Linked DNA regions of Homo sapiens: region 1 is linked to region 2. Evidence: fine-mapped expression QTL. A gene starts in region 2. The other region holds a variant in brackets. All regions are shown on one strand. Distances are between the middles of the regions.

Evidence for each region. PIP is the estimated chance that this variant, and not a neighbour inherited with it, causes the effect.
Region 1: its variant is the best candidate, but not a certain one, in a credible set for the expression of FLRT3 in liver (GTEx, PIP 0.52).

Annotation. Positions count from the first base shown.
Region 1 is chr20:14,699,583-14,702,510 of GRCh38, forward strand. All of the region lies in intron 5 of MACROD2 (mono-ADP ribosylhydrolase 2), which reads left to right. Among named protein-coding and RNA genes, the nearest start is that of MACROD2-IT1, 150 kb to the left of the region's middle. The variant G/C (reference allele first, on the strand shown) is at 1,573.
Region 2 is chr20:14,336,033-14,338,960 of GRCh38, forward strand. It overlaps FLRT3 (fibronectin leucine rich transmembrane protein 3), which reads right to left and starts at 1,580. Exons shown (of 3, transcript NM_198391.3): 1 at 1,372-1,580. The region is part of intron 3 of MACROD2 (mono-ADP ribosylhydrolase 2); the gene reads left to right.

The sequences.
Region 1 (2,928 bases), 360 kb after region 2:
ATTAATTTTACAGAAATAGAATCTTATTTTATTACAAGGAAGGCCGTCAGTCTCACAACTTGCACTCTATTTGTGAAGAAATATTCTTAAGCATATATTCCAGTAATATGTAGTTTAATACCTATGTGAAAACTAATTTCTTTTCCTCAAGCATCAACTTTTATCACAGAACTTTAAATCTAGAAGTTTAAAGTTTAAACTTTTTAAATCTAGAAGTTTAAAGTTTAAACTTTTTAAATCTAGAAGTTTAAAGTTTAAACTTTTTAAATCTAGAAGTTTAAAGTTTAAACTTTTTAAATCCAGAAGTTTAAAGTTTAAACTTTTTAAATCTAGAAGTTTAAAGTTTAAACTTTTTAAATCTAGAAGTTTAAAGTTTAAACTTTTTAAATCTAGAAGTTTAAAGTTTAAAGTTTAAATCTAGAAGTTTAAAGTTTAAATCTAGAAGTTTAAAGTTTAAAGTTTAAATCTAGAAGTTTAAAGTTTAAATCTAGAAATTTAAAGTTTAAATCTAGAAGTTTAAAGTTTAAATTTTAAATCTAGAAGTTTAAAGTTTAACTTCTCCTTATATTAAAGGAGCAGTATGAATATTCTTTGAGAGATGAACTTTAACCATATTTTGTGTGTGTGTCTCTGTGTGTAATATATACCTATAGACCATAGTCTGGGGAAAACTCATTTTTCACTTCTTCTTTTCATGCAAGATCTTAGGTGCTGTATTTTGCAACGTGCCGTGTAGCATTACATTTCATGATATTATAAGCTGAGTTTTATAGAACTGTTTCAAAAATTTTCATTATGGACCTTTTATATCATAATTGAGTATCTAGCAAAAGGTAAAAAAAAGTTCCACTTATGAAGCTGAATATCAATCACTCAACTATTCAGTTATGCTTAGGCATAGATGAGTAAGCTTGTTCTTTGACAGTTAAGACATATGGTGGTGTGTGTGTGTGTGTGTGTGTGTGTGTGTGTGTGTAATAGATGTGCCAGATAACTAAAATCTTTGCTTAGTACTTTGAGGGAAAAAGAGATTCGTGATGAGTGCATTTATTTTATTCCATTCTATCCACATTTTGTATAAAATCCATTTAAACAGGGGAACTAAATTGCTTACAGTAGTAAAATGCATTTCCCTCTGTGAATGTTGGTGCCTTTATGATGCATGCTGATTTGGACTCTGACACAGTCATAATCTACATACCAAACATAGGCATTTTGCTTTCAAAACAGAAACTGGCACTGCTAGAGCTGTAGGAGTGAGCTGGCTCACCAGAGTAATCTCTCCTTCTTGGAGAGATTTGGCTTATTGTTGATGGCCTGAAGTCCACTGTCTTGGACCTCAGAGTGGGCTTTCCAGTTTGTAGTAATGGGTTCTGTAGCATGCCAAGACTATAGAGACCCCCGAATTCATCTCTTTTATTTCCCTTCTATGAGGGAATTCCTGTGGTCATAAGGCCTGCAGCTTAACAGATGAGCAGAAAATGTGCTGAAACATTGGTGCTTAAAAATATACAAAATATAAGTGGGAATCAGTGTCTTTAGCTTTATCTTTGCAATGGGCAAAACAGAAAT[G/C]ACTCAAAAGTGATTTCTTTAGTTATGGAGCACTCAGGTTTCTCTTCTGCCTTTTGTATTTCCATATGTCACTGCTATCTATATTCTGTAGATACTCTACCTGTGACATTCTGGGATTATAAATATGTGAGTTGCATGCTTATTCACTTTCTCCCACCTTTTCATTCTATCCTGAGTAGTCTAAACTGAAAGCTTTTGAAAGCCTTGCATGTTTTCCACATCAACCCTTGAACATTTATACTTCTAAAAAAGGATGCTGGACTCTCTTGATAACTCTGTCCTTCAAGTTTGCCTCATCGGTGATGCCACTTGACTGAAAGTCCTCTTGGTAATCCAGTAATTAAATCCTTCTAGCTGAGGCCCAAGAGAGATCCCTCTGCTGAATTGCACTGCACAGTAAATGACATTATAATGAGGTTTTAACTTATTAGTTAAATGAATGAATGGAAACTTTGCTGCTGCAATTCATTAGATTTTTACGTTATAAACCAGGACTTGCTGCTGCAGATGAGAGTCCGTGCAATTTTCCCTTCGTATAATTAATTATCATATCAGTGTATTAAAGATAGTTTCACTAAAAGGAGAAATACCCTTGTATAGAAAGTCTAAGACAGTCTAACAAAACATGGTGATCACTTCTGTATGTCCCTGAGCTTGGTGTGATAGGCACTGTTCAGATACTTCTGCAATATTATCAAATTTTAATCCTCAAAACAACCCTCTGTGATAGTTACTGTTATTATTCCTATTATATATGAGGAAAATCAGGCACAGAGAGGTTAAACAACTTTCCTAAGATCTCATAGCTAGTAAGGGTAGAGCAAGGATTCAAACTCAGGCAGTCTCTCTCTATAGCTCTGCACTTATAAATAAGATTTCCTCTCATCCCTAGACATGAACATGAAGATTTGCTTATATATAAATTCATCTTATTGATATGTTTCTTTTGAATTTCTTCCCCTTTTTCTAATGAAAACTGATGATGCTATTTAGAAAGCTTTATTTTTTTTTACCTAAAATGTTTAATCTCAGAAAAGTACTGAGAAAAATAACAGTACTCATGCATTACCCACCAAGAATTTTAAACATATTAACATTTTGCCTCTTTATTTCTACTTTTTGTTTTTAAAATAAAATAACCAGTTATTTCTGACAAATTCTTCTTTTCAGTCTCATTCTTTCCTTCCCCTCTTTCCATTCCTTGTCCAGAGCAACCCACTCTTAAGAGCAGAATGTAAATCCTTCCAGACTGTGTTCTTATATTTCTACCAGAAGCACGGAAATAGCCATAATCCATATACATGGTATTGTGTTTTTAACTGTACACAAATGGCCTCATGGTGTATGGGCTGTACT
Region 2 (2,928 bases):
TGAATATTAGTCATCTGTCACTTTGGGTCAGGTATAAGTGATTCTCCCTGAATATAAGCAAATTTATTCTTTATGTTTAGGCTGGTCAGGATATTTTTATGCAGTCAGAGATAAATGAAAGGCATTGCTACAGCTGAAGGACTTTTCTAGTGGCTTTATTTATGTTGTTTCTGGATAATAAAATAACATAGATGAGCATTTTAGACAGATTTATTAATAGACAGATTTATTAAGAATGTTTAAAATAGCCTTATTATTAAAACCATTAGAGATTTTGGACTAAAAATTGAAAAAAAAATCAATTTTTTTTCTTTTAAATTCTAAATAAAATAATAAAAACAAACCCCCCAGATGTTGAGAAGACATGGATGGGCCTGTTGCACTCTTTACCTATATGCAACCATTTTGTTTCAGACCTAATTCAGTGAACAAAATTTTTTGAGAAGATACATTTAACTACTTTTTCAAGCTTTGTAGTATAAATGCATTTCTTCCAATATAAGATTTTCCTATTATAAGTTGCAAAGAATGGATCCTCTGCAAAACCCACTTGATAAGGGCTCTACTCATTTATTTTTCTTTCCTGCTACCCCAAACTCACTGCATACATCAGGCATAGCTTCCAGGGTGAGCTTTGTTAGTTTTTCTGAGTAGACTTAGCCATTTACTATGCTAGTCACATACTTCACTTGCCTAAGCAATGGATTTTGGTGTTCTATTGAAGAGGGAATATGGTTTGGAAGAGTGTCTCCCCCTCCTCTGAGTTCAATTTACTAGTTGAGATTTGCAAGCCTGAAATGCTTGAAGCAGCTCAGGCACGATAGCAGTGCAAGCTTTAAAATCTAGGTGTAGCTGTTAATCCTTTACAGAGGCACATAAGTCTCCAGGAGTAGCTCGGCTAGCTGTGAGCAAGATGTATGCTTTTCATGTACTGCGTACTCATGGGCTGAGGGATTATTGATTTTCTTTCACAGTTGTAAAAACAGCAATTGGTGATCATCCCACACGTACAGTACACACCAAGTTGCTTTCCTATCTGTGAAGAATCTCCTTGTATTCTTTAATATTTAACATTGAACTTTCCAACTTGCTGTTTTCCATAAGGCTCTTTTCACATAGCAATTACTCAAGACAGAAAATAGCCACTTACTATCTTTTATAAATGAAAGAAGGTTCTAAGAAACTTCTTACATTCAGCCATGATAGTGAAATTTTTCATTGCTGGCTTGCACGCACATATATTGCTTGTTGTGGTGACAGAGCAAACGTTCCTATTTGGATTTCTCATAGTATCAAGTCGTTTCTTTCTAGAGAGTAAAACCAAGCAAACTTTCTGGGACAATCATAAGAAAAAACATGGAAAACACTTACCAGGAAGACGAGAAAAAGCAATCCTATATACACTGCCGCTATAGCTGTAATTCCATTGACAGTGAATTGGAGTAATAGCCCTCCCCCGTCTCCCAAGCTCTGCGTCCAGTCCACACAAAGCCCACGGCAGCTGCAGGCTGAGCTTGTCCTGCTTCAGATCACTCCTACACTGAGGAGTGAGCGAGGGAGAGCATTCCAGTTTACTGCACACAGCCCACCTCCAAGTCTGAAGTTTAAAGCTTCACCTCGCAGTGGCTGAAGAAGGGGGTGATGTCATAGATGGGCAGGACTTAGCCAAGATCTTGTTCAGTGAGGTAACTGGATAATCAGACAGATGAGCTTTGCAAACGCTAGAGGGGGCGAGAGCAGCCAAAATGAAGCATCAGCCTGCCAAAGCTAGGATGCCATTTGGTTTGTAGGCAGCCCTTTGGAATCTCAACATTTTCTAAAGTTTACTACAAGGCAGTGGTAGCATACTTATGTATTTTTTTTAAAAAGCATGTTAGAAAGATATTTTTAAGATCACAATAGAAAAAGACAGGCTTTGTCTTATTTTTAAACCATCTGTATTGAAAAGAAGTTAACCAAAATCAAATTAGTTTTATTATTCACTAGCTAAAATAATGTTATAATTGTGGAAGATGTATGCCAGTAATCCCAACTGTGAATGTTTATTCAACATATGAATAAACAGCAGATTCAAATATATACATCAGGGCTGGGTGTGGTGGCTCACGCCTCTAATTCCGGCACTTTGGGAGGCCGAGGTGGGAGGATCACCTGAGGTCAGGAGTTCGAGACCAGCCTGACCAACATGTAGAAAAAATTAGCTGGGCGCCCGTAATCCCAGCTGTTTGGGAGGCTGAGGCAGGAGAATCACTTGAACCCGGGAGGCAGAGGTTGCAGTGAGCCAAGATTGCACCATTGCACTCCAGCCTGGGCAACAAGAACGAAACTCCATCTCCAATATATGTATATATATACACGTGTCACTGATTCATTTAGTTATGGGAAGGGCAATAGGAATGCCAAAAGATTTTTTTAAATGGTATTAAATGGTCTGTTCTTTTGGAGGCGAAGAAGTTACTGTTCTCTATGTTTTAGAAAATGAAAGTATGTTTTATGTACTTCTGCTACGTGTTTATATTATTTAAAATGGATTATTTATATTTAACGATCCCCCAATAAAATGTTTTTAAAAAATTTAATAGAATATTTTCCTTTCTAAATGTTTTTGCTGATCTGAGCATGGGTTTAGATATAAACATCTTAAGAAAAAAATCTTTCAGGGTGGTTTGCCTGGATTGAAATTATTTTAGTTTAATTTAGGTACATGAATAAACACTGGACAATTGTAAGACGTGGAGATTATAAATTTCTATGCCTAATTAACAGAATTATACTTGTATTTTTAATTATGATTTTTGTAGACTGGTTTCTGCTATTTGGTCAACAATTGCTTTGTGCCCGTAAGTTTTCCATCAAATAAGTGTATTTCACTTGTTCATGTTGGTGGTAAGAACTTAGCTTTTATATTTACCTGGAGGACCGTTGTCT